Homo sapiens: one gene and its partners. The protein of the gene in region 5 purifies or fractionates together with the protein of the main gene of each other region. This does not show direct contact. Each region holds a gene or a part of one and is shown on either strand. Other genes may lie near its edges.

Region 1 (4,807 bases), on a different chromosome or scaffold from region 5:
CAGAAATAAATAGAAAAATATCAGCTGACATTTTAAAAAAATGCAAAGACTAATTAATTAGAAAAAATAATCTTAACAGAAATTCAACTACAATTGTCTGTGTTCCTTTAACACTTGCAATATTGGCTTCATCTATTTTAAAAGAACATTAAACAAAAACTAATTGCTCTCAAGAGATCCATATGCCTATTCTTAGCAAAAAATCTCAAATCCGAATAGGTAGGTCTCAGAGCTGAGTAAAACATCACATAAAGCCAGTTGGGATTAAAGAAACCTTTTGAAGAAGAAATATAAAACCATGATAGTAGTAACAACTAAACTCATTCGCCTTGTAATCTGCCTACATGCACAAGGGCCTGGCATACTCTAGGTGCTCAAAATGTGGCTGACAGGTATTAAATGGCCACCTGCCTCTCTGATTACACCACTCTCTTTATCACCTCCATGTTCCCCCACAAGTCTTACCCTAGTTTCGGTGGTCCTAGATTAAACTTTCCTATACCATTTTCTTCCCCCATTTTTTTCCCATTCTATCTTTCCTTTGCTGCTTTCCCCCCAATACTTATGTCTATTACCACTAAAGCAGAATCTTAAAATGTGTTTTCTCATTAAAATGTATCTTATATTCAAAAGTGGCTTTTACATTTTTTGTCTAGGATCTTCGTAATTTTAACATTGAGATCCATATACATGGATATATAAACAAAAGTTTCACAAATATTTACCCTACTGTATATAATGGATTTTGACATTTTCTATTTAATTTTTTAAAAATAGCTGGTGTTTACACTAAACTGACTTCTCAACTCACTAATGGGTCTACCTGAAGTCTAAAAACACTGCTCTATGTAATTTAATTTCATTATCTTTTGAAAAAAAAATATAAAAAATTTGAGGGAAAAATCCAAGTACATTGTAAAATTCCAGGCTGTTTTATTTTATGTCTTTTTAACCCACATGTAGGTAATTTCAGAAATATGAAATACAACTTTGATTTATCATTAAATCCAGACTTACCGTACTGTGACTCCAATAAACTGAAATGATTAGCAGTAATCAAGTGAAGGATGAATCCAGCTTACTGTGCTCAGTTTCTCAACAAATATTATGACTGGGCACCACAGCTTGAAAGTTAGTTTTAGAACATTCTCCTTAAAATCTATTTGTTCAGGTTGTTTATTCTGCAATAAATCATTGAGCTATGCGTTTCATTTTGTACACACTTATGTATATTATACAATTTTAAAAGTTTAAGAAAGTCTATTGGTATACATTTTTTAAGAGTAAACTGTCCAACCATCAGGCAAAAAAAAAAAAAAATCACTAGATCTTTGGGTGAAAAATTGTTGAGGAGCAATATTCACACAGTGTCACAGTATCATGCCAAAGAACACTTTTTAATTAGAAAGGAAAAAAGGTATCTTTACAATGGAGAAACTGGTGGACACCACCTTAATCAAATAATCAAACAAATTCTGCAATGATGGGATAAATCAATGTAAAATGCTTCCTGATATATAATATAGATATACATATTAGATGTACCTATATATGCTGCAAAACATGTCTGGACTCTTGAAAACTATCAGTATCTTAAAAGACAAAAAAGGGGAGGAGAGGGCAGAACTGTTCTAGATTAAAAGGCAGTAAACAAGATATGGCCAGTAAATTGAATGCATGCTTTCTGAGATAGGGTCTCGCTCTGTCACCCCAGGCTGGAGCGCAAAAGCACAACCCACCTCAGCCTCCTGAGTAGCTGGGACTATGCTGGGACTATAGGAGCGCACCTCCACGACCGGCTAATTTATGTTTGTTTGTTTGTTTGTTTGTTTTGAGAGAAGGTTTTGCTCTATCACCCAGGCTGGAGTGCAGTGGCGCGATCTTGGCTCACGGCAGCTTCAACTTCTCGGGCGCAAGCGATCCACCCGCCTTGGCCTCCCAAAGTGCTGAGATTACAGGCGTGAGCCACCACGCCCCGCCTAATTTCTTTGATTTCTAGTAGAGATGAGGTCTCGCTATGTTTCCAAGGCTGGTCTCTAACTCCTGAACTCAAGCGATCCTCCCGCCTTGGACTCCCAAAGTTCTGGGCTTACAGGAGTGAGCCACTGCGCCAGCCCATCGATGCATGCTTTTTGACAGAATCCCAGATGAAGAGAAAGCAGCTTTAAAGGACAATTATGGAAATTTGCACATGGATTTTATATTAGGTAATATTTCCCAAATGTGGTAACTGCATTGTGGTCACACAGAATAATACTTAACTACTTATGGATTAAAAAGTAGAGGACAGCAATGCTCCGGGCACAAATAACTTGTTAGCTCCAGATCAGCATCTTAAAAAAATTACAAAAGCATAATGATATTTCTCTTCATAAAGAACAAAGTGAAGAAGAAAAAGACCACCGCTCTCCTCCCTTTGCATAATTTCTATATACGATTGTATAAACTAGGCAGAAACGTTCTTTGCCGGCACTCGTGTGCTCCACGTGGTGTGTGTCATGGATCATGTGTGTCATGGCACAATCTCATGCGGCATCTTTAACCTTGGGGCCTACGGTAAACAAAAGACCGAGGTGGGAGAAGAGGAAAGAAGGCCCAATTTCCATGGCATACAGGTGGGGGCCACCAGCTCCAGGTCAGCCTATTGTCGCTTCAGAAACAAACTTGTAGTTCCCTCCATATCTTCGCTCAGGACCTCCCCTCTCCCCGCTCCAACTTCCCCACCCCAACTCATTAATCCCATTCCTGAATGCACTGAGCTTCTGGAACGCCTCGGGACTCGCAACGCTTCCTGCTTCTTCCTAACTCTTGCAAATCAAGCCAGACTACCCTGCCCTCGCACTTACCACAGCGCCCGCCCCTTGGGGGCCGTTCGGGGTCGTATCTGCCATGGGGGCTCACACTAGCGTCTGCGACGCCGCAACCGCGAAGAGAGAAGAAAGGGGAGAGAAAACGTCAGCGCTGGGGCCAGGACCCGGGTACCGGCTTCCCTGCCTCGCGCCACACACAGGCCGGATGCACCCTGCCGGAACTCTGAGCCTCCACCAGGGAAGGGTCTCGCTCGCCTGGTGCAGCCGACTGGATCCAGGGCACCCGCAGCAGCCGGGAGGTACCTGTCCCGCACCGCCGAGATCAAAGCGGTGTTTCCAGAAAGACGGGAGCGAAGGTGGAGCTTCGGGGTGAAGCCCTAAAGAGCCAACCTACGCCGCCGGCTCCAGGTTATTGCCGAACCCGGAAGTGCTCCTTTCATTTCCGTGGGGAAGAGGCGGTGACAAAGAGGGGGAAACGGGAGCGGTGCCCAGAGGCATGACGGGAAGTGTGGTTTTTTTCTCCTAATTTGAGCCCCACCTGTCCTTCCGCCGATTGGCCCAGTGAGCTAAGAAATCAGGATGGGGGAGCAACTTTTGCATTAAATACAGCTCACAAATGATCTTTCCTGCCCATTCTCAAACCATGAAATTTCCGCACTTCCTGATATAGAGGCCTCAGAAACATCTTTGATTCCTTTCTCCAGGGGCTTACTAAGCCCGTTGGTTCTACGTCTATTATTAATTCTTTCAATAAGTATTTATGAGGCCTGCTATGTGACAGGCTCCATACTTGGCACGGCGGATAAAAAGAGGAATATGACACAGATTGCAAAAGAGAAACAAGTAAACGGAAATCAGAGCATAGTGATTGTGTAATATGTGTAGAGGCTGATTTAATCACAGGGAGCACAGAGGACGGTACCTAAATCAGAAGGGATCTGGGGAGGTTTCCTGGAAAAGGTAAGTCCGGGCCTTGATCTTGAACGACAAAAAGTTGGCTGAAAGTGTTACTGGTGTAGGGTGTCCAAGTTCTTGGCGTTTTGAACATAGAATTGGACAAAACGCACAAAGCAAGGAAAGAATAAAGCAACAAAAGCAGAGATTTGTTGAAAATGAAAGTACACTCCAGAGTGTGGGAGAGTGAGACAGCAGCTCAAGGGCCCTGGATACAGAGTCTTCTCGGGTCCAAATACCCCCTAGAGGTTTCCCATTGGCCACTTGGAGTTCACTTCATGTAAATGAAGTGGTGGCCCGCAATCAGTCTGAATGGTTGCGCAAAGCAACCAATCAGAGGCTGAAGAAGTTACAAAGTTACACTTCTATGCAAACGTCTGATTGGTTACAAAAAGCAACCAATCAGAGGTACTTTCAATTTCCCAAATCTGCGCAGAACAGGTTGGGGCTTGCAAAGGGAGTAGTATCTGGCCCTTTATTCACTTAAGCGTGGACAGTAAGGATTTTCCTTCAATTTAGTTCTAGGAAGTCAGCGAGAAAGGGCATTAGGTTCCCTACCGCCATACCATATTCTTCTGCCTTAAAACGGGAAGGGAACTCCATACAGAGTAACAGAAAGTGCAAGAAGTAACAGGACAGCGAGAGGACTAGTTGAGTGTGACCAGAATGATGGTACCAGTCAGGGGATTGTGAAAGATTTGCGCTAGAGAGGCAGGCAGGGGTGTACTGAGGAAAGGATCTGAACTTGACCCTGAAATCCAGAGAACCATGGAACAATTTTAATCAGAAGTGTGACATCCTGAGATTTAGAAAGTTCTCTCTGGCAACAGGGTGGAGGATGAACAGAGGGGCAAATTAAAAGTCAGGAAATTCGTTGTGAAGCCATTTATATATATATAAACTAAAAATAAAATCCTAAGTAAGGGGTCTGTCGACTGACTGGATAGATCCCTTTCTTGGCCAAGGGGACCCCAGCCATGATGGGACAGGAGATCAGACATGCCTCATTATACCCCCTCCCTTTTGTAGTTTAGACACAACTG
Region 2 (4,190 bases), on a different chromosome or scaffold from region 5:
GCTCCTCCACCAGTTCCTCCAGATTGTTCGCGTACTGCTCCATGCGGGACAGCAGGTTGTCCAGGATGTTGCTGCTGTTCTCCCTGGGGGCAGAGGGTGGCGGTGGGGGTGGTAAGAGAGGAGCAGCACAGCCTACCGTGAGCGCCCGCCCCTAGGCACTTCCCCCTCCAGACTGCAGTGAGGTCTCTAGAGACGCTCAGGGTTGAGGGCATAGCAGGATACCGGGGAGCAGGGGAAAACAGAAGGAAGAAAGTTCAATTCTTTTCTGAGACCCCAAGGTCAAGTATGAAGCTTCAGACATATGGACATTTTGTTCATCTTTGTTGAACCCAGTGAGTTAGAAGGAGGTAAAGGAGGTGGAGAATGACAAGGGTCAATTGCGGACAAAGTGATGTCCACAGAAGGGTGTGTCTGGAGGAACTGGGCCTGGTGGGCACGCTGGGGAAGGGAAATCAAGGGGTGGGGCAGGAGCTCCCGTGGAGGGCCAAGAGCCTACAGGGCAGGAGGCGGGAGGCCCATCTATCCTACACACTGCTGAGAAGTCTAGAGGCCAGCAAGGCGAGTGGGCAGGAAGGGTGTGGGGTGTCGATGGTGGAGGGAAGGGGCATGAATGGCAGGGGACTGTGGGGACAGCTGAGTCATGCTGTACTTGCGAAGAGGGTCATGAGGCTGTGCTGAGCTGGAGCTGACTATGTACAGGGAGGAGGTGAGTGGTCTCCCTCTGCCACTGCTGGGATAAGCCAGAGCCAGAAGCATTAGGTAAATGGTGGCTGTGGAGGAAGGGCCTGGGGGATCCATGACAAACACCAGGGACCTGTTAAATTTGCGCAACGTCAGGCGGATCTGCTGGAATGGTGGCCTCTCCTGTGGGTCCTCAGCCCAGCACCGCTGCATGAGCAGCCCCAACTCCTCCAGGTGACTCTGCAGGGCCAGGGAGGGCCGGAAGGGGGGCTGCTCACCCCGAGTCACCCGCTCGATGATCTCTGTATTGGGGGGGTAGAGGAGCTGAGGGGTGGGGCTGGCCAAGGGCCTAGTGAGAGACTGGGGCAACCAGCTGAGATGGCAGGGGAAGTCCAAGACCAAGGCATGGGGGCGGGGGACTGGTCACTGGCAGCAATGGGTCAAAGGGTGGTGACTGAACCCCATTACAGAAGGAAGGTGTGGTGGTGCTGCCAGGGGACCCTCTCCCTGGGGCTGGGGTTCGTTGAGACTGTGGCTGGGTTTAAGGAAGGTGTGCTCCTCTCACCTTTGGGGCTCAGGTCCAAACCTTCCACGTGGAAGACCCCACTCCTCAGGGCAATCTCCTGAAGGATGATCCCAAAGCTGTATACGTCACCAGCCTGGGAGCCCCGCACAGGGGGTGAAGCCATTCGCAGGAGCTCAGGGGCCGTCCACAGCTTTTCTGTGGGTCAGAGGTCGGTAGTCACCGAGTGAGGGAGCCCAAAGCTAAGGGGTGAGGGGGAAACAAGGGTGTGGCCGAAACTGATCTGGATGCATCACAGAGTGTTAGAGCTAGAGGAGGCCTTAGAAACCACTTCGTCTGGCCTTCCCTTTTTCATGGGTGAATGAATTGAGGCTGGAGTCAGGACAAGCATGCCCAAGCCCATCAGAGGCCTTGCATCAGTCTCCCTACTGGGTGGTGCTGGGGGCAGGTGTTAGGTTCAAGAGTCAAGGCTCACTGGCATAAACGGTGTGTCCTTGCTCTGGGTCCAGGTCCCTGAAGCTCTCCAGCCCATAGTCGGTGATCTTGAGCACAAAGCGCCCATCTACCACGCAGTTGGATGACTTGAGGTTCCCATGGGAACAGATAGCCCCATTGTGTAGAAACAGCATGCCCTGGAAATGTGAGTGGGCAGAGGTATTGGCCAGGAGTGGGACCTACACCCGTGGCCAGGAGAAGCATGCCTGGCCCCTGCTCTACACATCCAATAGGTGCTTAGGGGCATACCTTGACGATGTCATTGGTGAGTGAGTACCGGAACATCCAGTCCAGGGTGATGCTCTCATTCTCCAGAATGTCCTGCTGGGGCAATAAGAGTCAGACCAATCCCCTGCAGATCCCCCTGGGAGTTGGAGGAGGGTGCAGGGTCCTACTGATGTGAACTGGTAGAACAGGACAAAACTTTGGATTGACTCTAGTGCCACTGCCCTTCCCCAACTCCCATTTTTACAGATGGGGCCAGAAAGGTCAGAAAGAGGGCGAGGCATGCCTGGGGTCTTATGGCCAGTCAGGGGCAGAGCCAGGGCTAGAACCCAGGTTTCTTGACACCCCTTGTCCCCCTCACCTGCAGGCTCCCACGGGGACAGTACTCTGTGAGGATGCAGATATTGGGGGGGTCGGTGCAGGCTCCCACAAACCTGGTCAGGTGTTCATTCTGCACATCCCGCATCTGCAAGTGGGACCAGCATCAGGAGCTTGACAGAGACCTCGCTCCTCACCAAGCTGCTCACTAGCTTCAGGGACCCTCACTCTTCTTAACTCCTTATTCACTTTCTGCAACCATCACTAAGATCTTCCCTGGTGATTCCCACCCATGTCCTTTAGCCCACCCTCCCCAGAATCTGCTCCTACTCCCTCTGCATCCTAAGCCCTCTCTCCCCCAGGGACATCACATATGGCCCCTCAAGATTCCTCCAGGTTATCTCCAGTGGTCTCTTCTCCTAGCTTAGGATACCCCCACTCCCACCCACAAGATGAAGGTCCATCCCAGGGCTCCAGTCCCTGCCCCTTTCTTGGGGTACCCTGAGGTCCCTCCATAACTAGTTCTGTTGGCCAGTCTCCCTTGCGTCCCCGAGGGCCCCTTCTCCATGCCACTGCCTCACTCCCCACATTACATGCTTCAGTTCAAACAGGACTTTTCGTGTCAGCTCAATGCGTTTACGGTTCACACGTTTCACAGCCACGAGGTTGCCCTGGGCATGGAATGGAGACTGTCACTGTGAAGAGCATGGTCCCATGTCCTGGGAATTCCAGCTGCTCCCGACAGCCCATCCCTGCCCTCAGGACCCTCACTTGTTCCCAATAGCCCACCCCCAGGGCCCCCATCTGCTGCTCCCCACCAGCTTACTCCTTCCCTCAGAACCCCCCACCAGTCCTCCATCAGAGTACACTCCTGCCCCAGTCCCAAGGCCCAGTGATCTTTCCCCAGGCCCACCTTATAATATGCTGTCTTGGCAAAGACTTGGAACTGGCCCTCTGTGGTTAGCAGGGAGCCGTAATTGGAGCCTCTCTGAAAGGAGGGAGAGCAGGAGGAATGGTCAGCCGGTGGGCCCAGTCTGCATCCTGATTGCTTGTGCTCTGGTCTTTATTTCCCTGCCTTATCCTGCCTTATCTTTGTGTCACCCTTCCTTTTTGTTGTTGGGTTTTTTTTTGAGATGTAGTATCATTGTGTCATCCAGGCTGGAGTGCAGTGGTGCTATCCTAGGTCACTGCCGCCTCAGACTCCTGGGCTCAGATGATCCTTTCACCTCAGCCTCCAGAGTAGCTGGGACTACAGGTATGCGCCACCATGCCCTGCTAATCTTTGTATTCTTTGTAGAGACGATGTCTTGCTCTGTTGCCCAGGCTGGTCTTGAACTCCCAGGCACAAGCAATCCTCCTGCCTCGGTCTCCCAAAGTGCTGGGATTGCAGATGTGAGCCACTGTGCCTGGCCCACCCTGCTTTATGTTCCACATCATAAAATTTCCTCCTCATTTACTTTTTTTTTTTTTAAAGTGTTTTCACAGGTACTATCTCCTCTGACCTTTAAAAGAGCCCTGTGAGGGAGGCTCTGCTGCTGTAATCATCATCTGAGACAGTCTCGGAGAGGGACTATGAGTCGCTCAAGGTCACACAGCAAGTGAAAGCAGAGCTGGGACTAGAATCCTGCTCCCTTACCTATCCCTCAGGCACTGCCCCTTGTACCCACCTCTCCTTTATTGCCCCCCAACACAAACACCAGCGTTCTTACCCCGCTCAGGGTCAGCCGGCTGCCTGCACTCCGCAGGTGCCTCTCAAGGCTACTGGGCTCAACGTCCTCCCAGCGCACCCGCCACAGCTCCGAGGCCAGTTCCTTCTCCAGCTGCATCTTCCTGGGATACGAAGGCTGCATCTGAGCCTGTGGCTGAGCCGCTGACCCAGGGCAGGGTGCTCAGCAGCCCCTCCTCAGAGCCGTGGGACCACACCATGCACTCAGAGATGGAGGGGGAA
Region 3 (4,190 bases), on a different chromosome or scaffold from region 5:
AAGGCTGCATGCATCCACTAGAAGGAGAGGAGAGGAAGGGAGCACTGAGTCAAGTAACAGAGAATGGGATAAAATAAAGAAGAAACGAAAGGAAAATCAGGGAGGACACAGGGTACGAAAAGGAGAAAATAAGGGAAGGGAGGAAGGAGAAAATGGTAGAGGACATAAGGTGATAGAAAAAGGGAAAGTAAATTTATTATTTCTACTTTTCTTGGACAATATAGAGACTCAAAATAGTTAATGCAACTTGCTCCAAAAGCGAGAGTGCAAGAGGTGGTGGGTCTATCAATTAACCTTATTGTCAAAGGGACAAGGATGAGCAAGAAAAAATTAGGCTCAGCTGCAACGAATGCTAAGCTGCTCTGCACATCTTTTAAAAGGTCTAGGAAATAGGCACAGCCATGGGAAAGTTGCTATTCCCTCAAGAACTTTTTAAAAGCAAGATATGTTTATATAGGCTCCCATAAATTCTTAGGAGTTCTGCCAAAATAATGGACCCAGACTCAGCTTTTTGGAATTGGGAGTTTCTGAAGCAGTCCTTTCCTCCTTTGGGTTAAAGGAGGGCTGCAACAAGCCAGAGGCATTTCCAAGTGTACAGAGGAAGGTGATGTTCTCGCATGCGCAGATAAAAAAGGACAGGTCAGTCTAAATCATTCTTATAGAGGAATGAGAAGTTAAGAGAAGGACAAGGAAGCACTGTGAGAAAACATCAGGGCTGAGAGAGACATTTGGGAAATTAAAGTTTAAAAATCCACTGCCATTTCATCCAGCAGAGTGCAACACATTCACAAGTGCAAGGAATACTGGGTAGTTTGGTTTAAAACAAAAACAAAAACACCTCCCATACAAGGGCCAATTTTTCACCCCATCCCCAACCTCTAATTTTTCAAAAAGGTTGTTTACTGCTATACAATCCCAGAAACACATCAACCAGGCTCAGTATTTAAAAGTCCCAACCCACTTAGACAATAAAAAAATAGAAATCACTCCCCATGATTTTCTGTATAGGCCTCAATGTGGACACTGAGGAACGAAGGGAAATACTGGACAAGCTGAGAAGCCTCAGGCCAAACTAAACCCTTCATAGTTGTCAAGGGCCTGGGTCAGCCGGGCACTCAGAATCTCTTTGCTGCTGTACTTGGGGAGGTCAAGAAGGTTGTAGCAAGTGTGGGCCACCGGCAAGTACTCCTCCCCGCTGGCTGTGGACTGGATGACAATCTGCAGACTGGCCATGCCGTAGATGGGAATCCGATCGCTGCCTGTCAGGAACACTGGGGAGAACGAGAAATGGCATTAGCAGCTAAGCAAACGGAAAATGGATCTCAGAGATCCTTCTGGCAACAGGAGAGGAAGGCATGACACCCTGTGGCTTGCATGAGAAGTACAATTACATTTATGTGCCAATATGCATCCTGTGGAATGAAAATTAGATGCCGTTAAGAAAAAAAAAAGGCCTCAATCAAATGTACACCCTCACAAATGTTAGATTTCACAAAATCAAAGAGGGAAGGAATTGCTGTCATAGGAAAAGAGGAGCTGATCTTAAGGGGAAAACAGAAGAAGACTGAAGTCTCTGACCTCAGGGTCTCCTCTCACCTCAAGTGCCTGATGCCTGTACCACCTTGTCTACGGAATTCCATTTAGGATCTATTTGCTCTCCTTTCCACGTCTCCATTTTTCTTAAACCCGAAGAGCTGACCCAAACATTATGTTAGACATTGCACTCTTGTGACATGCACTGTGACTTGGCAAAAGAGAGAGAGGGAGACAGACAGAGAAAGACAGCTCCTTGTTTTCTAGTGCTGAACAACACTCTCATAGTTGAATTGCTGGAAATTACTATAAGAAAATCATTAGTTAAGAAGCACTTTCAAATAACCTGCCATTCCCTGAGGCTGTGATACATAAAGTTTCTTGCCAAAAATCTCCAGAGTTAACAAACATTTCTGTAAGTCTAATGAACAGAAAGTGCCATTTTCTAGGGAAATTCCAGGACCATGAGCAGGCATCTCTTGAATGTCACAGCCCTACAAGCTCACTTGGCAAACCTTAACCTGTCATTCAGCTCTTCCACTACTGCTTCTCAATAGCCAATGCAGCCAGGCAGAGGAGAAGTGGTCCCTCTTTTTAAGAATTCTTGTGTAAGATCTCCACTTCCTCTCATCCTTGCTCCCATGTGAGCAGCAGAACCTGTTAAGTCCTACATTAATACTAATATATGCTCCATCTTATAAAGCAAAATAGACTGCCTATCAAACCCTGTGCTTTGATTTTACATGACTAAAATTCCATACTATGCACTAGCTAATTTCTGACGCTGATTACACACAGACACAAACTGAGAAATATTTCAACCATTTTTAAAAGGCTGAATTTGTTCATGTAAATTAGAATTCATTCTCCTTTCCAAAGGTATTATTACCCTTCTCAAATGTCATTCAGCCAGCCACAAAGGTCTACATATTATATGATTCAATTTGCATGAAATATCCAGAATAGGCAAATCCATAGAGACAGAAAGACTGGTGGGGGAGCTGGGAAGAAATGGAGAATGACTGCTAATAGGTATGGGGTTTCTTTTTTGAGGTTATGAATGTATTCTACAATTGACTGTGTGTTAGTTTCACAACTGTGTGTATACTGAAATATACACTTTAAATGAGTATGGTATATAAATTATAGCCCAATAAAGCTGCTATAAATCACACCTTCCCAGTTCCATCTGGATACTTTGTAATATATTTTAAAGGCTAGAGAGATAAGAGAGGTTAATCCAAACAATTTGACTTCATAAATGGAATACTTGAATAACTTACATATAAAATAATTGGTATTTTTAGAATAATTTAAAAATCAGGCCAGGCGTGGTGGCTCACACCTGTAATCCCAGCATTTTGGGAGGCCAAAACAGGCGGATCACTTGAGGTCAGGAGTTCAAGACGAGGACCAGTCTGGGCAACATGGTGAAAGCCCATCTCTACTAAAAATATAAAAATCTGCCGGGCATGGTGGCAGGTGCCTGTAGTCCTAGCTACTTGGGAGGCTGAGGCATGAGAATCACTTGAATCCAGGAGGCGGAGGTTGCAGTGAGCTGAGATCACGCCACTGCACTCCAGCCTGGGCAGCAGAGTAAGACTCTGTCTCAAAAAAAAAAAAAAAGAAAGAAAGAAAAGAAAAATCAGTGAGATGCTTCTTTTCTTCCTTTCATGCAACCCCTCTTGTTAGGCAACAGATCTGGATTAACAACCTATATTGTGCCTGAGATAACATTAAGACAAAAAGCATACATATAGTGAATTACCTGGTCTTTACCATTTAAATGAGTTAAGCCTCAGCTGTGGAGCATGTCATCCTATACTGTATGTAAGACTAAAATGTAGACAAATACCATATTGAGATTACTGATACTTACAGAGAAACTTCTTCTTCTTTTCCAATGGAAACTCATGAAATGTTTCCCAAAATAGTTTTACAGTGGGATGTGTGGCCGAGTAATCTCCCTTGTAGATGGCAGTCTGTCCAAAAAAGAGAAAAAGAAAAAAATGTATCTTGGAAGAATATTATAGTGGACATTATATATCATTTGCATTTGAGGCTAAGAAATAAGTGCTGAGATACAGGACACCTCTAAATCTAACTCAACCACAGTATGCTTGGAACGAGACCAGGCTCTGGGAACACCTCCCCAGGCTGCTGCTGCTTCGCCGGAGTTAAAGGAGTTAAAGGATCTTTTGTGCTTACCTCTTCCAGTTCTTCCCAGTTGTAGTTGCTGTTCCCCACCATCATAGCCCTCAGTTCTGAAGGCTGGAAGAGCTCAAGTACTTTGCCACCACACACCTTTAGGAAGCCACTAGAGAAGGCTGTGTACCATTCATGAACTGAGATTTGGAAGACATAATTCACATAAGCATCCACAAATTCCTGCCTGCCAGAACACAAAAGAAAATACATTTAGCTCAAAGTCTTGTAAAGCTTATGAAGTTACCCTTCTACACTGAGATTGGGAGTGATAAAAAATAGAATTTCATCAAATTCTCAAATCAGGAGGCATCCTAAGGCATCATATAGGTTACCAGCTCTCCTCTCCTCCCTCTCCATCCCCAGCCCTAACATTCCACCAAGTGCCTCAGGTGATCCAAGGCAGGATAAGCCAGATAGGAAGGGCAGCAGGCCAGGTATATAGAACTAAA
Region 4 (4,190 bases), on a different chromosome or scaffold from region 5:
ACCTAGGCTGATGGCTAGGCTATAGGAGGAATCAGCATCACAATACCTAAAGCCAGTGATCACTCTTAACATCACAGAAAGTGAGACAACCAGATATGATGTGCCTCTTGGCCTGATACAATAGAAGTATACAGCACCACCTAGGAAGTATTCCTGCCAGAAAATAAGTCAAATCTTCTGATCCATAAATGTTCAGGAAACTTGGGATACAGGAACATAATTGAAGAATGAGGATTATTGTGGGTAATTCTATAGGACAAATCAGCTGGATTTCTCAACAAACAAATAGCAGGAAAACAAAACAAAAACAGGTAAAGAAATTCACATATTAAAAGACTTAAGATACACATCAACTAAATGCAATGTGTAGGCACTGTTTGGATCCTATTCAAACACATCAACTGTTTTTTTGTTTTTTTTTTTTTAAAGTGCCAAACAGGGCATTTAAATACTGATTTCTATTTGATTATATTAAGGATATTGTTAAATGTTTTCCAGTATGTCTTGTGCCATGGTTTTGTGCCATAGTTAAAACAAAGTCTTATCTTTAGAGACACTTATGAAAGTATGAAAGCATGAAATGATATAATGTCTGGGATTCCCTTTAAAAAGAGATAGTTGGCCGGGCACGGTGGCTCACGCCTGTAATCCCAGCACTTTGGGAGGCCGAGGCGGGTGGATCATGAGGTCAGGAGATCGAGACCATCCTGGCTAACAAGGTGAAACCCCGTCTCTACTAAAAAAATACAAAAAATTAGCCGGGCGCGGTGGCGGGCGCCTGTAGTCCCAGCTACTGGGGAGGCTGAGGCAGGAGAATGGCGTGAACCCGGGAAGCGGAGCTTGCAGTGAGCCGAGATTGTGCCACTGCAGTCCGCAGTCCGGCCTGGGCGACAGAGCGAGACTCCGTCTCAAAAAAAAAAAAAAAAAAAAATTAGCCGGGCATGGTGGCAGGCACCTGTAGTCCCAGCTACTCAGGAGGCTGAGGCAGGAGAATGGCGTGAACCTGGGAGGTGCAGCTTGCAGTGAGCCGAGATGGAGCCACTGCACTCCAGCCTGGGCGACAGAGCGAGACTCCGTCTCGAAAAAAAAATTAATAAATAAAAATAAAAAATAAAAAAGACATAGTGAGTGGGGGTGTAGATGAAGGAAAACTGGCTGTGGCTGTCAGCTGTAGAAGGTGGAGCATCTACTCTTTCTACTTTGGAACATCTTGAAATTTTCCATAATAAAAAATATTAAATGTTTTTAAATTCCTAAAGTACTATGATGAAATCCCAAATAAAAACTAACCATTTCAGTGCGAAAAGCCATCTCCCTTTCCAATGTTGAGAGGTGAGAAAAATGACGGTCATTTTCAAAGAGGTGTGTTATATGGCTCCTGGAAAAACAAAACAAAGCAATAGTGTTAAAACTTACACTCTAAGTATTATTTTTTAAAGTAAGCTAAAAGCAAAAATAAAAGTATCAGTTAACTTGCAGATAATTTTGTAATAACACTCAAATACAATAGTATCTATATTTTTTTCACTCAGTATGTATTGCATTTATACTAAAATTTCCCTCTCTAAAAAATCAAATTAGATTTTAAAATTAAAATGAACCAGAATATTTTAAGTGAAGTACAATAAAAGTATAGATTAAACTGTAAATGTCATTGGGTTACCATTTTAGAAACATCTAATGAAATTCATATTTCTATCTAGAAGATTAAATAAATTAATCTCTCTCTCACCATGAACATATTAATGTTGAGTGGAGTCTCAAATATAGCCTCTTTAATAATGAATCTCTTTTTTATTAAACAATTATATTATTCTGACCCTGATTTATCAATTAAACTAGTTTTTCAGACTATTGTGTTACATGTAATATATATTCATACTGATCATGCTGAAATTATTCCTTTAAATGTATGGGAAATAGCTTTAGCAAGTTATAAACGTCTGCATAAAATACCATAGGAGAAAAAAACAATCTTACCAGTGCAACACTGCTGCAAAAACAGCTGTAAGAAAAAAGAAATTTAAATTAGAATTTTAGCATAAACATGTTCATCTTACAGAAAAGCCATTTCAAAGATAAAGCATGTCAAATATTGAAATGTGTAAAAAAGAATACTGGGTCTTCAAAAAAGTCCCAGGGCTACGTTTAAAATTGTGATTGACTAGCTCATAAGGGAATTAAGCATACAGCCACCATTTTCACTCACTCACTCATTCAACAAAATATATGAAGGCCTAATATCCGCTAATAGACAGAAACCATTAGATGGAAACTATTGCTAATAGAACTGAGAGAGGAATGGAATCAACAGGTAAGGATAACTTAGAATAAAGAAATATGGTGGCTGAGGGGTACAGGATTGGGGGTGGAAGAAAAAAGGGAACTACCACTTCTGATATACTGCTGCAATGCCTGAAATTTTATGACAAATATTAACCCGTGTCTTTAAACAAATTTAAAATGAAATGAGTAAAGGAGAAGAAAAGGTAAGAGAGAGAAAACAAGCTAGTAATAAAATCAGTCTCATATGAAAATCAATACCTTGCTATCTGTCCAAGCAGAAAGAACATACTAAGATGAACCTGGAAGACACCATTCAATTTTCTTATCTCACAAGATACAGCTGATGGCAGGCTTCTGATTAAATAACTCTTAACTAAGGAATCAACCTATGAAAATACTCCTAGAAAGGAAACCCAGGCCAGATACAGTGGCACATGCCTGTAGTATCCATTACTGGGGAAGCAGAGGCAGCATCATCTCGAGCCCAGGAATTCAAGGCTGCAGCAGTGTGCTATGACTATGACTGTTAACAGCCACTGCTCTCTAGCCTGGGCAACATACTGAGACTCTGTTTCTCAAAAAAACAAAAGAAAGAGAAAAAGAAGAAGTAGGAGGAAGAAGAAGGAAAAAGAAAGAAGAAGAAGGAAGAAGAGAAGGAGAAGGAAGAAGAAAGAAGGAAGAAGAGGAGGAGAAGGAAGAGGAAAGAAGGAAGAAGAGAGGAGGAAGGAAGAATAAGGAGGAAGAGAAGGAAAGAAAAATGAAAACCAAATAGATCAGATCTTATTGTTTTATTCTTAAAGTCAGTTATATTTTTTCATTTAAAAATCCATTTTGCCTTGGAAATACGAATGGTTACTTCTAGATAATTGAAGTTACAAATATCTAACTTAGTTTGTCATTTGACTTTTTTTAATAAGATATATTGATCTTTTGAAATTTTAAATTTTTTTCTTATTAACAAATCTACCATTTGCTTCCTTTTAGTTTCTGTCTTTAAAAACTTTATCTGCCAGGCTCATGACTATAATCCCAGCTACTCGGCTGGAGGAAGTAGGGGGATCAGCTGAGGACAGGAGTTTAAATCTAGGCTGGGTAACACAGCAAGATCAGGTCTTTACAAAGCACGAGCCTATTGTCCCAGCTACTCAGGAAGGCTGAGCTGGGAGGATCGCTTGAGTCCAAGAGGTTGAGGTTGTAGTCAGCTATGATCACACCACTGTACTCTAGCCTGGATGACACAACAAGACCCTGTCTCTAAAGAAAAAAAATAATAATAATCCTAACATAATAAAATTTGGTCTTTATTTTCACAATGATTCAACTATCATTTTCTGAATAAATTATTTTTCTCCCATTGAATGTAAATGCAACTTTTATCATACTGAAGACTTGCCATGCTTCTACTTTGGTAATCACTCTGAGGTTATAATTGGATTTTCACTTATAAAATTAATTTGGGAAGAATTTACACGTTTACAATATAGAGCCTTCATATCCATAAATGTGGTGTGGGTATATACATATGTTGTATATATAGGTATGTGTATATATACATAACATATATCTTCAATTGTTCAAACTGTTTTTCGATAGTCCTTGAGAAAAATTCTACAGGTATTGTTAACATATGCATTTCTTATGAAGTTTCTCCTGGGAGTTAAACATTTTTTTCCTGCTAATATTCATAAAATGTTTTTTATTATACATTATTGGATATTGTTAAGGCATTTATTTTTGAAGAGTATTTATTTTGCAATGTATTTATTTTTGGTTCATTTACTAAACTGTTAATTCATATAGTTTTTTAAACTTATCTTCAGTTCTCCATTTTATTGCATTTTATTTTATTTTTGAGGAGTCTTGCTCTGTCACCCAGGCTGGAGTGCAGTGGCATGATCTTGGCT
Region 5 (4,798 bases):
AGCACCACTGCACTCCAGCCTGGGCGACGGAGCGAGACTCCGTCCCAAAAAGAATAAATAAATAAAAATAAAAAATATTTTTGGTAAGTATTCTTAGTATTTTAAAACAAATCCCAGCCATGACATCATCTTACCCGTTAATTAAATGGCACTAATTAAATGGTGCTTGAAATATTACAAACATCTATGTTCGACCATACCACCTAGAGTTCTGGGCAAGAAGGTTGGGACCCACAGGTCAAGCCTAGCCCCTTAGTTTTACCATGAAGATAACTCAGGCCGTCGGAGAAAGTGGCCTGCCCAACGCAGGTGCTAGAGCGCGAACCAAGAGAAGTCGATCCTCCTGGTCTCCCCGGCTGCCTGGTGAGTGGCAGACCACAGGCTAGACTTCCCAGGCCCCGGCCCTGGAAGGGGCGGGGAACCCTCCCCCTCACTGCCAGCTGGAAGAATCCGAGCGGTCCCCGCACGCACTTCTGGAAGTGCAAGCCGGTAGCGCGGCGGGCCAGGGATACAGCCAAGTCCCGGGACGTGCCAGCTGCGGTAACTGAAGCCGGGTCCCGGGCGGGCGGGGGTACCAGGGACAGGAGTAGCCTTGGAAAGAGGAGAGGGCCTCCTCCCACGACCGTCCGGATCACCGCCTCTCCGCCGGCACCCCCGGGGCCCATGCCGCGAACAGGCCGGCGAGGCTGGCAAGGTGCCCGGGCCCGGGGCGGAAAGCAGGAAGTCGATCCCGCGGGCGCGGCCCAGGGTGCGGCGCTGCAGATGCAGCACGGGGTCGCGGGGCGGGCGCCCAGTGCACCGGAGGAGGTGAGCGCCAGGTCGCCTTCGCGGCCCGGGGACACAGGCAGGGACGCGGGAGCTGATGCGGCTGGACCGGCCGGGGAAACAGTATTTTCTGGAAGGGGTAAGAGATGCTGTCTTGAGCCTTTGGAATCTCGGATCCGGGCCGCCCAGAGGACCTCGACAGGAGCACAGGGAGGACAAACTGAAGTCCGAGAGAGGCGGCGTGGCCTCCGGCCTCGGGGAGCGCTGCCGGGGGTCTCGGGCTTGGGAGAGGGCCTGGGGGCGGTGAAAATGGGGGGAAAGGAGGGGACCACAACATTGTTATGGAAGAGTGAGCTCGGATTGGCAGAGGGACGCGGGGCTGCAACGCGAGTCTCCGGAGGTGGAGGGGTCCAGGCTGATGTAGCGCCGCCCGGGTCCTGGGTCGGGGTTCCGGGAAGTGGACCTGCGAGCCAAGCCTAGCCAAGTCGGGGGACGGAGGCTCCGGGGCGGACGGAGCTGAGGGTGGGCAGGCGAGGTTGATGGAGCCCTTCCAGGAAGCAGGGCGAGGCTCAAGCACCCAGAAAAACCTGTGGCTGCCGAGGTCCCCCGCCAGCAGCGGGCAGCGGAGCGCAGGGGCGGGGCTGGGGACTGGCGAACTCCGCCTCTCTGGGGCTGTCGCTTTAAGGGCAAGGCGGGGCGTGCGGGCCCTTTAAGGCCACGTGGGGGCGTGTCAGGAAGTGAGTCCAGGGCCCGCCTCCCGGGGAGTCGGCCTCGGATGTCCGGAGGCTCCTGGGCTGAGCCGGCGACAGAGCCCGGGAAGGCAGCGAGACGTGGGCGCCGGCCCAGCCCCCTCCCGCGTCCTTCAGCCCCAAGCCCCGAGCCCCTCTGACCCTTCCGCAGCCCTCCCTCCAGCCGCGCCCGGCCTCCGGCAGCTCCCTGTACGCCTCCCTCCCCCTGCCCGCCCCTCCCTCCCACAGCCGCCCATGACGCCCTCTCGGCACCTCTTCCCACTCTGCCACGCGTCCTTTTCCTGCACCTTCGCCCCGCGTACCTACTCCTGCCCCGCCCTGCCATTCCTCTCCCCTCCCTTCTCTCTGCGACCCCTCCCTGTTAGGCCCCAGCCTCTTCTCCCCTCACAGGTCTTCTCTGTCCTGGCCTCACCGCCTTATCCTATTCCTCTCCCTTGCCCTGTGTCTTGTCTCAGAGCCCCCTCGGGGTGGGAGTAGGTTGTGGAGCAGCACAACTGGGCTCACCCCAAAGCAGAACTTCTCAATCCATGAGGACAATGGGGAGGCCTTTAGGCCAGCCCACATGTGACAATGGAGGGCTGCGGCTTCCTTGCGGAGAGCACAAGTGAGCTCACTGCCCTGGACTCCAGGGAATCAGAGTTCTGGCCGCGGGGTGACCCAGCTCCTCTGCTACCATGAATAGGGCCCCTCTGAAGCGGTCCAGGATCCTGCACATGGCGCTGACCGGGGCCTCAGACCCCTCTGCAGAGGCAGAGGCCAACGGGGAGAAGCCCTTTCTGCTGCGGGCATTGCAGATCGCGCTGGTGGTCTCCCTCTACTGGGTCACCTCCATCTCCATGGTGTTCCTTAATAAGTACCTGCTGGACAGCCCCTCCCTGCGGCTGGACACCCCCATCTTCGTCACCTTCTACCAGTGCCTGGTGACCACGCTGCTGTGCAAAGGCCTCAGCGCTCTGGCCGCCTGCTGCCCTGGTGCCGTGGACTTCCCCAGCTTGCGCCTGGACCTCAGGGTGGCCCGCAGCGTCCTGCCCCTGTCGGTGGTCTTCATCGGCATGATCACCTTCAATAACCTCTGCCTCAAGTACGTCGGTGTGGCCTTCTACAATGTGGGCCGCTCACTCACCACCGTCTTCAACGTGCTGCTCTCCTACCTGCTGCTCAAGCAGACCACCTCCTTCTATGCCCTGCTCACCTGCGGTATCATCATCGGTGAGTGGCAGCTGGGGCCACGGGGGATAGAGTGGTCATGGGGACTGAAGCAGTGAAGAACAACTCTTCTAGGCATCCTAGGACTTCATCTGTCCCAGCTCCTTTGGTGCAGCAGTCATAGGAGAAAGAGCCTGGGGGCACAGAGAGAGCAAGTAACTTACTAAAGGTCACCCAGCAAGTTAGGAGCCCAGCCGGGGCAAGAACAATAGTAATAATAATAGTAACAACAGCAGCAAAAGCAACTGACATTTGTTGAGTGATTAAAATGTGCCAGGCACATGGATCTTAGCCATATTAACTCAGCTAATCTTCATAACAAGATGGGATTATAATCCACATTTTACAGAGGGAAAAACCAAGGCACAGAGAAGTTAACTAACTTGTCCAAGATCACCCAGCTAATAAGTGGCAGAGCTGGGATCTGAACTCAAGCAATCTGGCTTCACAGTTCACATGCCCGACCACTGTACTTTATTGTTTCTCAAGAGCTCAGGTGTCCTGATTTCCCAGCCAGTGCTCTTAGTAGAGGACAATACGTCTTTTAATAAATATACCATCACTCTCTGCCAGCTCAGGATAGCGCCTGAGACAGTAGCAAGCAATATGCTTTGAGAGGCCTCAGCTGTCTTCCTGGACTTGACCCTCAGAAAATAATAATTATTGATGGGGAAATTATGCTAATTATTTCACATATAGCATCTCCTTTGTTCTCCCAGAGATCCCCTGGGTTGTGGCATCACTACCAGCGGTCATCTCTATACAAACAAGGAAACTGAGGCTCAGAGATGTTACATTACTTGCCCACGGCCACACAGCTAGCAAGCAGCCAGGCTGGGATGCAAACCCAGATTGGCCAGACTCCCAGGCCTGTGCTTCTATCCCCTCTGCTCGTCTTGGAGGTTAGAACTGCAGTATTCAATGCAGTAGCCATTGGCCACTTATTTAAATTAGTTAAAATTAAGCAAAATGTTAAACATTCACTTCCTCATTTGCAGATGTTACAACCTGATTTTCTAGCCACATTTCAAGGGCTCAGTAGCCAAATGTGGCTGAGGGCTATGGTATGGGACAGCACAGGTTAGATGGGCCCATATTTTACTGGGCCCCATGCTGCGTTAGAGAGCCTCCAGCATCCCATTCCCTCCGAGTCTTCCCAGGGCTGCGTCATCTAGGAATGGGGTCTTCATTTGAACCTATGCTGGTTTTTCCTGGTGCTATAAAGTTTATCTTATTTGGCCTACATATCATATTCTTTGCTGATGGCTCAGGGTCCCAGGCTAGATGCACCGGTTGGTGGGGGAAGGGACCCATCCCATGCCACCTGTCCTAGAAAATGTTTCCCCTTGTTGAGCAGCTGCTGGATCTAGGGCTGCTGGGTCTAAGTCCAAGAGGGGAGAAGGGAGAAGGTCACAGTTAGAGTAGGGGAAGCTGCAAGACCCCCCCTGCCAGAACTCTCCCAGCCTGCTTCCATTTCCCTCTCCAGGGAACAGGTGTACCTCCCCTCCTCCCTGTCCTCCTCAGATGCCCCAGGGCTCTCTACTTCATTCCTGCTGACCCTGCCAGGAGTGGCCTCAGGGGTAGAGGCTCCTAGTTGGAGAATTTGCTTGCAGGAAGGTGAAGACACTAGGGTAACTGGGCCCAAATCCCAAAGGTAATCCAAGTAACCAGTGGTGAGGTTCTGAGAATGGTGCATTCACGGGCGTGCCTGACTGGGACAGGGGCCAGGGAGGTGGACGCTCTCTGCCAGCCCAGGACCTGGCTCCCTATCTGCAATGTTTCCTCTTTCTTCCTCCTTGTAGGGGAAGACGAGTCTCAGGCAACTATTCTAGGCCTCCCCTCCTAGCCCCCCATGTCACACAGTAACTTTCAAAGCTCCTTCTGGGCCAGGCACAGTGGCTCATGCCTGTAATCCCAGCACTTTGGGAGGCTGAGGCAGGTGGATCACCTGAGATCAGTAGTTCGAGACCAGCCTGGCCAACATGGTGAAACCCTGTCTCTACTAAAAATACAAAAAATTAGCCGGGCGTGGTGGCATGTGCCTGTAATCCCAGCTACTCGGGAGGCTGAGGCAGGAT
Region 6 (4,190 bases), on a different chromosome or scaffold from region 5:
TGCTGCAAGAACTTCTAGTCTAAGGGAGATGTGGAGAGAGTGAGTAAAATGGAGAGGAGAGTTGAGTGTGATGTGAGCAGTCTACAACTAGATGTATACACAGGTGTGGAGGAGCCCAGGGCCTGGCCCAGCTTGGGGTAAGCAGCCAGTCAATGAAGGCTTCCAGAAGATCTGTTAGAGCCATGTTCTTAAGGATGGGTAGGAGCTGTTCAGGCATATATACGTGGAGAATGGACTTTCTAAGCAGAGGGGGCATTAAGTGCAAAGGTCTGGAAAGAACAAAGTGTGGGGCAGTGAAGGAGCTGCAAGTAGATCAGTCTGGCTGGAGCTGGAGGTGTAGATGTGACTATGTAGAGGGTGGGAGGGATGGGGCTGAGGAGGGGAGAAAGATAAGGCTGGAATGGTAAGATGGGGCCAGATTGTGAAGAATCTGCATGCCCTCATCATAATCAAGAATTGAACTTACTGAGTTTTCACTCTGCTCAGTGGAGAGCAAAGCTTTCCGTAGGAATTGTGTATTTGCATCTTTACAATGGCTTTAAAAGCCTTAGAAGGCGTAAGTTCCTTGAATAACTTGTAAGTAGTAAAGCTGTCATCTGTCCTCCCAACCTTGGTTTTAGGAGAGATGTATTGTAGGTCACTCTTGCTTCAGTGTGGCAAATGGATTGCAGGTGGCAGGCCTGGAGAGAGGAGGCAAAAGTTGCTAGCCTGTCACATTGATCTGGGTGAGAGATGGTGTAGTAGAAGTTTTTAGGATTGATGCCTAGATCACAACTGTTTACTCTTTTCTGGAAACAGTGCCAATATGGTGTGACCTTGTAACCCCCTCCCAACTTTGTGTCTCTAGTTGCTTGGTTCTGGGTGTGCAACAGATCCAGCCTGGGCAGTCAGAGCCCTTTTCTGGGACTGTTGGATCTGGGAACAAAGAATAGCCTGCTTTCTCTGGTGTTAGAGACTATCTGATTTAGGCCAGGTGCGGTGGCTCACACCTGTAATCCCAACACTTTGGGAGGCAGAGGCAGGCGCATCACTTGAGCCCAGGAGTTTGAGACCAGCCTGGGCAACATGGTGAAACTTCATTTCTACAAAAAATAGAAAAATTAGCTGGGCATGGTGGTGTGCACCTGTAGTCCCAACTACTCAGGAGGCTGAGGTGGGAGGATCGCTTGAGCCCTAGAGGTCAAGGCTGCAGTGAGCCATGATCGTGCTACTGCACTCCAGTCTGAGTGACAGAGTGAGACCCTGTCTCAAAAAATAAATAAACGATCTGATTTGAGGCTGGATGGCTGTGGGAAGCCATATTTCCCTTTGTGTAGAAGTAGTTGGTCTAGAAGGAAAGTAGATTAAGCCAGTAGAGAAAGAGAATCCTCCTGGCATTTGAGGTCCAGTGGCACCCACTCTTCCTGTAGTGTGGTTATGGGAAATAAACCATTATCCTTCAAATACATTTTTCTGTTTTGCTTAAGCTAGTTTAAATTAGTCTCTTGCAACCTTAGGGGTCTTGATTAGTATAGATGGTGAAGGTCTAAACTAAGGCACTGAGTGTGGGGTTGGGTGATCTCACACTTTAGGGGGTAAACTGGATGAAAAATGGTAGCTGTGTGACTCAGAGGGAGATGGGTGCCTTGGTAGAGTAGAGATGAGGATGGTGTTCTACATGGAAGGAGCACATTGAGCATAGGCGGGAGTGTGGAGCAGCACTGGGGGAGTGTGGTGAATTTGAGTTCTTCTGCTTGGCTGGGCTGTGGGGTGAGCTGGGGCTGGTATAGAGGGAGAGCCAGATCCTGCAAACCTCACTGAGGCCTTAGGCTTGATCCTAGAAGGAGTGGGAATAAATGAAGGTAGGTGTTGGTGATGACTGCTAATACAAACCCTCACTGCTTTCTAATGATAGAAGCATCACATTCCAGAACATGTAGGAGATAAAGGTTTTAAAGAAAATAAAAATTACACTAATGCCCATCACCATTTGTTCTTTTTTTATTTCCAGTATTTAAAAATGTATACATTTAAAATAGCTGAGATGCTGTATATATAGCTCTTAATCTTTTACCTCACTTCTTCTATCATGAGCATTTTTCTGTAACACATTTTTTGAGACATTTTGATGACTGTATATTATCCTACTTTGTGAATTTTTATAATTTATATAATATCCATTTCTAAGATTTTTGTTCTTATGGATAAAATTGTTTTACTTAAAATCTTAAAATTTTGTTCATGTTTCTCATGTTTTTAGAATAATTCCTAGAAGTGCAACTATGGGATCAAATAACATCATTTTTTAAAATAATAGTTTTTCACCCCAAGAGTATAAATTCAAGTTGTTCTGAATATATACTCCCTAAAAGTAAGGTATACTGATTTATACTTTACATGTAATAACATTCACCCTTTTTAATGGACAGTTCTGAATTTTGACAAACGAATGATTGTGTAACTGCCACAACAGTCAAGATATAGAACAGCCATTAACTCGCCAAATTCTCTTGTACTCTTTTGTAGCCATCTCATTCCCCTGCCTTAGACCCTGGCAGCCCCGATCTGTTTTCTGCCCCTGCAGTTTTCCTTTTCCAGAATGCTATATAAGTAGAATCATATAGTGCTATAGTTTCTGCCCTCTGGCCCCCAGAGATAGATTTCCTTCCTGTGTCAAAACATATTCACTCCATCGCAAGGCCTCCCCAAAAGTCTCAGTTCATTTCAGCATCAACCCAAAGTCCACAGTCTCATTTAAATCTCATCATCTAAATCAGGTATGAGAGGGTCTGGGTGTAGTCCATCCAGAGGCATGATTCCTTTCCACCTGGGAAACGCAAGAATCAAGTTATCTGCTCCAACTTAGAGTTAGGGAATGGGCATGGGATATCAGTTATAGACAGTCCTGTTCAAGGGTGGAGGAAAAGGAAGGCAAAGAGGATTCACCAGTCCCAAATAATTTCATTTTCATAACAGCCAAAGTTTTCAATTTTGACGAACTCTGGTTTATCAGTTTTCTTTTTTTATGCACCATGCTTTTAGTGTTATATCAAATCTTTCTTAATCTAAGGTCACTGAAGTCATCTATATTTTCTTCTAGAAGTTTTGTACTTTCAGACATTATATTTAGGTCAATTTTGAGTTAGCACCTGTATGTGGTACAAAGTATGGATTGAGGTTTATTTATTTGCATTTGGATGTCCAGTTGAATATAATAAAATTTCTACTCTTTTAGAACTTATAGTTATGGTAGACAGACAATAAGTGAACAATATGTCATTTTTTGGATGGTGGCAAGTGGTGTGGAGAGCAGTGAAAGCAGGACAAAGGGTTGAGAGTGCAGGGTGACAGTGAAGCCTGTGTGGGGTCGGTACCCTGACATCCCACATCCGGTGAGACTTTGTAACCAGGTGACCTGACGGGGTCAGGGGGTAAGCCGTGTGCATGTCCTGTGGAAGAGAATTTTAGGCAGACAGAAAAGTAGCACAGAGGCCTGGCGAGGTGGGACGGTGCTCAGTGTGGCCATGCAGCCAGGAGGGTGAGAGGGGGTGGTAGGAGCTACAGTCACAGGTGTCACACAGGTGAGAGGCTTGCCACTGAAGAGTTATCTTGGCCAAGGTAAAAACATTTGATTTTACTTTGAGCACCCCGAGAAGCCCTTAGAGGGCTTTGAATAAAAGAGGCCATGCTCTGACTTAGTACTGCTCACATTGTGGTTCTTCCTCAGTGTTGTCAGTGTCACAGGGAGCTGGATAAAGATGCAGAGTCAGGGGCCCCACTCAGACCTGCTGAGTCAGAATCTCTGACGGTGGGGCCCAGGAATCTGCTTTAAAAGCTCTTCAGGTGATTCTGATATATGTTAAAGTTTTAAAAAAAGTAATGTAATTTTAATTGACAAATTATATATATTTAGGGGTACAATGTGATGTTTTGATACATGTATCCATTGTGGAATGATCAAATCAGGCTAATTAACATATTCATCACCTCCCATACTTAATTATTTATTTGCAGTGAGACCATTTAAAATCCACTCTTCCAGGTAAAGTGGAGGCAGGGAGGCCAGTTAGGAAGCGATGATAGTGACGCAGGTGAGTCACGGTGGCTCGTCCAGGGTGGCAGTGATGAAGTGGTGAGTAGTAGTCAGATGTGAAATGTATTTTACAGGTAGAGCCAAAAGCATTTGCTAATAGATTGAGTGTAGGGTGTAA
Region 7 (4,190 bases), on a different chromosome or scaffold from region 5:
TTGCAGCACAGCCTGCATGCTGGTGATGCCAGGTTCACGTCTCCAACCCCACCCGCCCTCCAAACTCCAGATCATGGATGCTGGCCTCCTTGGCTTGTGGGCACTGCAAACTTCACGTGTCCCAAAGCAAACTCCTGATCTTTGCCTCTCCACTCTCATCTTTCCACCTTGTCCCCATCTTGGTTAACGGCACCCCCGTCCTGCCAGTTGCTCAGATCAGAAGCCCAGGAGACATCCTCAACTCCACACTCACGCCCCACAACCAATCTGCCAGCAAATCCTGTCAGCTCTGTCTCCAAAATACATTCAGCATCTATCGACGGAATCCAACCACTGATCCTCCTCTATCCTCGGCCTGGCCTGGCCACCACAGTGGCTTGTCTGGGCCGCTATTTGGTCTCACTGCTCCCGCTGTGCTCACTAAGCGCTGTTCTCAGCAGGAGTGAGCCTCTCCAGGCATATGTCACAACAGGGGACTCCTCTGCTCCCTTGTTCTGGCGGCCTCCTGTGTTAAGAGTGGAAGCTGGCACCCTGCAGTGGCGTGTAGGAGGCCCCACGTCTGTGCTGGACTCCTGCTACTCTTCCTGTGGCCCGTTCCCAATGCGATGCCTCCTCACTGTGCCTCCAGGGGCCAGGCCACTCCAGCCTCAGCACCTCTATCCGAAGCAGGTGTCCCCCAGATAGGAGAAGGCTCGCCCCTCACCCGCTTCCAGGCGTTACTGAAATATTATCCTGCCAGCAAGTCCTGCTCTGACCATCCCACATCAAAATGCAAACAAAACAAAACAAAGCTCCCCAGCAGCATACCCGCCTCCCTTCCTTGCCTTCCCTGTGTCTGCAGTACTTACTCTCGCATGGATGCATATTTTAATTGTTTAATTGCTTTTGCCTGTAGCTTCCCCTACCAGAACCCAAGTTTCACGAGAGCAGGGGTTTCTGTGTGCCGCATCGCTGCCATAGCCCCAGCCCTTGATCCCCACGCATGAAGCAGACAACCAATCAATACTTATGGAATGAGTGAATTTGAGCCTCACCACAGTCGTGAGTGTCCGCTAGGGCAGGGGTTGTTCTCCTCATTTCACAGATGAGGAAACAGATGCTGCCGGAGCCTGCAGTGGCCTGCACGTGGTCACACACCCGCAACCTTAGATAGTGTGACCCAGCCCAAGGCTCCTGACAAACTGTAATCCCAGCAGGGTTCCAGACCCCTCCTCTGTGACGGGGAATCCCCGATTGGCCGAGGGGAGAAAGGGAGAACAAGAGAGTGGTCGTCACCCTCAGACAGGGCTTCACCAGCTGGGGACTCCAGGAGGCCACACCTTGCCCTGGAGGACCTACTGCTGCGTTAGAGAGGGCGTCAGTCTGTGCCCACAGCCTAAAATCTATCTTTACCAAGATGAGCCAAGAGAGGGGCCAGGTCAGCCTTGGTGACTGAGACTGACGCAGTGTCCCCATCTTTGTCCCAAGAATCAGTGTGGGCCCATCTAGCCAAGGTCTCCAGCCTTCTGGAGGCCTCTGTCCCTCAGCTCTCTTGATCCTGGCCAGATCCCCATTCTGACGCTAGGACTGCTCCAAAACGCGGGGCAGGGAAAAGGAAGGATGCCCAGGGTGCCGTCTAGCACTCCTGGGGCCTGTGGGGGCCGTCCCAGTGGGGGTCAGGGAGCAGAGACTGGCTTGCTCCCCAATGTCAGGCTCCCGCTGAGACACCTGCCCCCGCCCCCCGCCCGGCACCACCGCAGCCGAGGAAACTCGTGGCCCTCCCCGGCCCCTCCCTCACCAGGGGTCGATGAGTATCTCGACCAGGGCCGTGCAGAGCAGGACGACGCAGGAGCAGCTGAAGGCAGCCCCACTCTGCTTCTCCTTCTCCACCGAGTAGCGGGTTTCCATCTCGGGGTCCATGAACCGCATGGACAAGAGGAAGGTGTTTCTCTTCTTTACTCTGCAGTGGGAACAAGCCCCATGAATCCCAAATGCCACATCTGCCTTGGCCTAGCAGGGGGGCCGTATTTGGGATGCTCAGTTTCCTGAATCCCTTGTCAGGGCCCGGGAGGAGTGGTGGGCCTGGACGCTTCCGGGTGGCGCTTACACTTGGGCGGACTCTCGCTCAAGCAGGGCCTCGTTGAGCAGCTGGTTGAGCTCGTGCTCATCTTCAGAGGCATCCACCACTCGGTCAGCCAGGTCCTGCAGGCGCAGCCTCCGGCGTGGGTTGGGGAATGAGGGGTTGTCGGCCTGTGAGCCAGGGAGGCAGCGTGAGTGGGGCAGATGGGACAGAGTGGTGGGGAAGAGCTGGGAAAGACAGAGGTGGAGGAGGAAAGGAACAAAAGAGGGCATACTCGGAGGACCAATCCCTCCAGCTCTAAAATCCCTTTCCGGGAAGTCTTCCCCATGCTCCCACGTGGCTCCATGTGGCCTGGATCTACACCCAAAGCTCCAGTCTTTCCTGGCTCCCCGGGCCCCCCACCCAGAGCTCTGCAGGGAGGGTCCGCTAATGACAGCATTGTAGGGAGCAGCCCCTGGCTCCTGAGCAGGAGACCTGTAATCGGAGACAGCTGCTGGGCTGAGGCAGTCCTGGCACTTCCTGCTGTATTGATGTGGGGGCCATATACATTGGCAGCCTGGGGACATGAATGGCTCCCAACTCTAGGGCTTCAGGGAACTGTTAAAGGAACTCACATCTGGCTCATTTGGAAAGGAAGATCTGAGGGGGAAAGTGATGGGAGAGAGAAGAATGTCCTCATCACTAGAGGGCTGACAAGGGGCGGGTAGGTGGAGCTGGGGCACCCACTACCCTTTTATTCCCAGTTCCAAAGAAAAAGCATCAACTCCAAAAACAGGAATCCTGGCTGTGATGACACAGCCATCAGTCTGAATAGTCACTGAGACGGGCTGAGAGCTGTCTGAACGGGTTCAACAGTGCATCTGGGAGCCACAGTCACGACTCCCTGGGGCCGGGCACGGTGACTCACGCCTGTCATCCCAGCACTCTGGGAGGCTGAGGTGGGTGGATCACTTGAGGTCAGGAGTTTGAGACCAGACTGGCCAACATAGTGAAACTCCATCTTTACTAAAAATACAAAAATTAGCCAGGCATGGTGGTACACGCCTGTAATCACAGCTACTTGGGAGGCTGAGGCAGGAGAATCTCTTGCACCCGGGAGGCAGAGGTTGCAGTGAGCCAAGATCGCGCCACTGCACTCCAGCCTGGGTGACAGCGTGACTCCATCTCAAAAAAAAAAAAAAAAGACTCCCTGGTCTTAAGCACAGGCACAGGTGTGCCACTGGTTGACAGTTTGACCCCAGATAATGTTTCCCCAGCCACATCTTCCCCTTCTGTAAAATCACGTGGATGGTCTGTGGCAGCAGCGGGAACCTGTTCCTGAAGCAGATCCGGGAGCAGCGTGGCCCTGGCTGAGGGTCAGGGCCCGAAAAATCAGGCTGCTAAAGCTGCATCTGTGTCCTCCTTGCTAGTGAGTGCCCTGAGTCTGGACCCCCACTTTCTATCAAGAAAACTGCAACAAGGAAAAGTTACTGAATGTTGGGGGACTCAAGAAAAACCTAATTTACCCTGAGCCCCATCTACCCTCTTGTTCTACGGCATCTGCTCTAATGGCACCAGGGCCAGCTCTCCTGTCCCCCTCACGCGGTGAGCCCGAGCAGGGCAGACATCCCATCTCTGCAGCACTGACCTCCATCAGTGAACGTGCTCCAGACGCCCTGCGGTCAGGGACCAGTTCTGGGTGCTCCCCAAGAGGCACCCTGCACTCTGGGACAGCATGCTAATTCCTCGCCTTTGGGGGCTAAGGAAATATCCCATCTTGCATGGAACTTGTGGGGCTTGAACCTAGCCAGAGGGGTGAGTCCAGGTCTGATATCTCACTTCCAAAATGGTCTCAGATCCTATATAATTTTCCATGGATGTCCTCACTGATCTCAAATCTACAGGATTCCGGGCCATCAGAGCTACAAAGGCCTCCGAGCTAAGCACCTCTTTTGACCTTACTCACCCCGGCATGTAACTGATGAGGAGACAGTGGGGTTTTGCGGGGCTGGAGGGGTGACCTGTCCATGGTTACAGTGCTAAGCAGGAGCAGGTCCTGGGTGGTGGCCAGGTCTCCCCAGCACAGGACTCCTGCTGCAGGAACGTATTGCTTCCTGGTGCCTGCCCGCATCTGGCCCTCAGTGACCCCCTG

The links.
Region 1: the proteins of SLC35C1 (region 5) and TMEM33 purify together in Homo sapiens (affinity purification with mass spectrometry; one large-scale study listed by BioGRID and IntAct). This does not show direct contact.
Region 2: the proteins of SLC35C1 (region 5) and NPR1 purify together in Homo sapiens (affinity purification with mass spectrometry; one large-scale study listed by BioGRID and IntAct). This does not show direct contact.
Region 3: the proteins of SLC35C1 (region 5) and HERC3 purify together in Homo sapiens (affinity purification with mass spectrometry; one large-scale study listed by BioGRID and IntAct). This does not show direct contact.
Region 4: the proteins of SLC35C1 (region 5) and DPY19L1 purify together in Homo sapiens (affinity purification with mass spectrometry; one large-scale study listed by BioGRID and IntAct). This does not show direct contact.
Region 6: the proteins of SLC35C1 (region 5) and KIDINS220 purify together in Homo sapiens (affinity purification with mass spectrometry; one large-scale study listed by BioGRID and IntAct). This does not show direct contact.
Region 7: the proteins of SLC35C1 (region 5) and ADCY3 purify together in Homo sapiens (affinity purification with mass spectrometry; one large-scale study listed by BioGRID and IntAct). This does not show direct contact.

What each region holds. Positions count from the first base shown.
Region 1 is NC_000004.12:41,933,569-41,938,375, reverse strand, and holds the start of TMEM33 (transmembrane protein 33), read right to left. Parts: upstream 2,948-4,807; 5' UTR 2,892-2,947; coding exon 2,847-2,891; intron 1-2,846. UniProt on the Homo sapiens protein: Acts as a regulator of the tubular endoplasmic reticulum (ER) network by modulating intracellular calcium homeostasis. Mechanistically, stimulates PKD2 calcium-dependent activity. Suppresses the RTN3/4-induced formation of the ER tubules.
Region 2 is NC_000001.11:153,684,846-153,689,035, reverse strand, and holds part of NPR1 (atrial natriuretic peptide receptor 1 precursor), read right to left. Parts: intron 4,073-4,190; coding exon 3,952-4,072; intron 3,231-3,951; coding exon 3,156-3,230; intron 2,914-3,155; coding exon 2,836-2,913; intron 2,391-2,835; coding exon 2,286-2,390; intron 2,021-2,285; coding exon 1,949-2,020; intron 1,837-1,948; coding exon 1,680-1,836; intron 1,447-1,679; coding exon of another isoform or gene 1,424-1,446; exon of another isoform or gene 1,403-1,423; coding exon 1,247-1,402; intron 984-1,246; coding exon 815-983; intron 84-814; coding exon 1-83. UniProt on the Homo sapiens protein: Receptor for the atrial natriuretic peptide NPPA/ANP and the brain natriuretic peptide NPPB/BNP which are potent vasoactive hormones playing a key role in cardiovascular homeostasis.
Region 3 is NC_000004.12:88,703,833-88,708,022, reverse strand, and holds part of HERC3 (probable E3 ubiquitin-protein ligase HERC3), read right to left. Parts: intron 3,926-4,190; coding exon 3,742-3,925; intron 3,516-3,741; coding exon 3,413-3,515; intron 1,272-3,412; coding exon 1,063-1,271; 3' UTR 1-1,062. UniProt on the Homo sapiens protein: E3 ubiquitin-protein ligase which accepts ubiquitin from an E2 ubiquitin-conjugating enzyme in the form of a thioester and then directly transfers the ubiquitin to targeted substrates.
Region 4 is NC_000007.14:35,016,592-35,020,781, forward strand, and holds part of DPY19L1 (protein C-mannosyl-transferase DPY19L1), read right to left. Parts: intron 2,006-4,190; coding exon 1,981-2,005; intron 1,379-1,980; coding exon 1,291-1,378; intron 1-1,290. UniProt on the Homo sapiens protein: C-mannosyltransferase that mediates the C-mannosylation tryptophan residues on target proteins.
Region 5 is NC_000011.10:45,803,614-45,808,411, forward strand, and holds the start of SLC35C1 (GDP-fucose transporter 1), read left to right. Parts: upstream 1-1,535; 5' UTR 1,536-2,188; coding exon 2,189-2,723; intron 2,724-4,522; coding exon of another isoform or gene 4,523-4,566; exon of another isoform or gene 4,567-4,798. UniProt on the Homo sapiens protein: Antiporter specific for GDP-l-fucose and depending on the concomitant reverse transport of GMP. Involved in GDP-fucose import from the cytoplasm into the Golgi lumen.
Region 6 is NC_000002.12:8,827,496-8,831,685, reverse strand, and holds part of KIDINS220 (kinase D-interacting substrate of 220 kDa), read left to right. Parts: intron 1-4,190. UniProt on the Homo sapiens protein: Promotes a prolonged MAP-kinase signaling by neurotrophins through activation of a Rap1-dependent mechanism. Provides a docking site for the CRKL-C3G complex, resulting in Rap1-dependent sustained ERK activation.
Region 7 is NC_000002.12:24,832,708-24,836,897, forward strand, and holds part of ADCY3 (adenylate cyclase type 3), read right to left. Parts: intron 2,287-4,190; coding exon of another isoform or gene 2,230-2,286; coding exon 2,087-2,229; intron 1,940-2,086; coding exon 1,778-1,939; intron 1,760-1,777; exon of another isoform or gene 1,035-1,759; intron 1-1,034.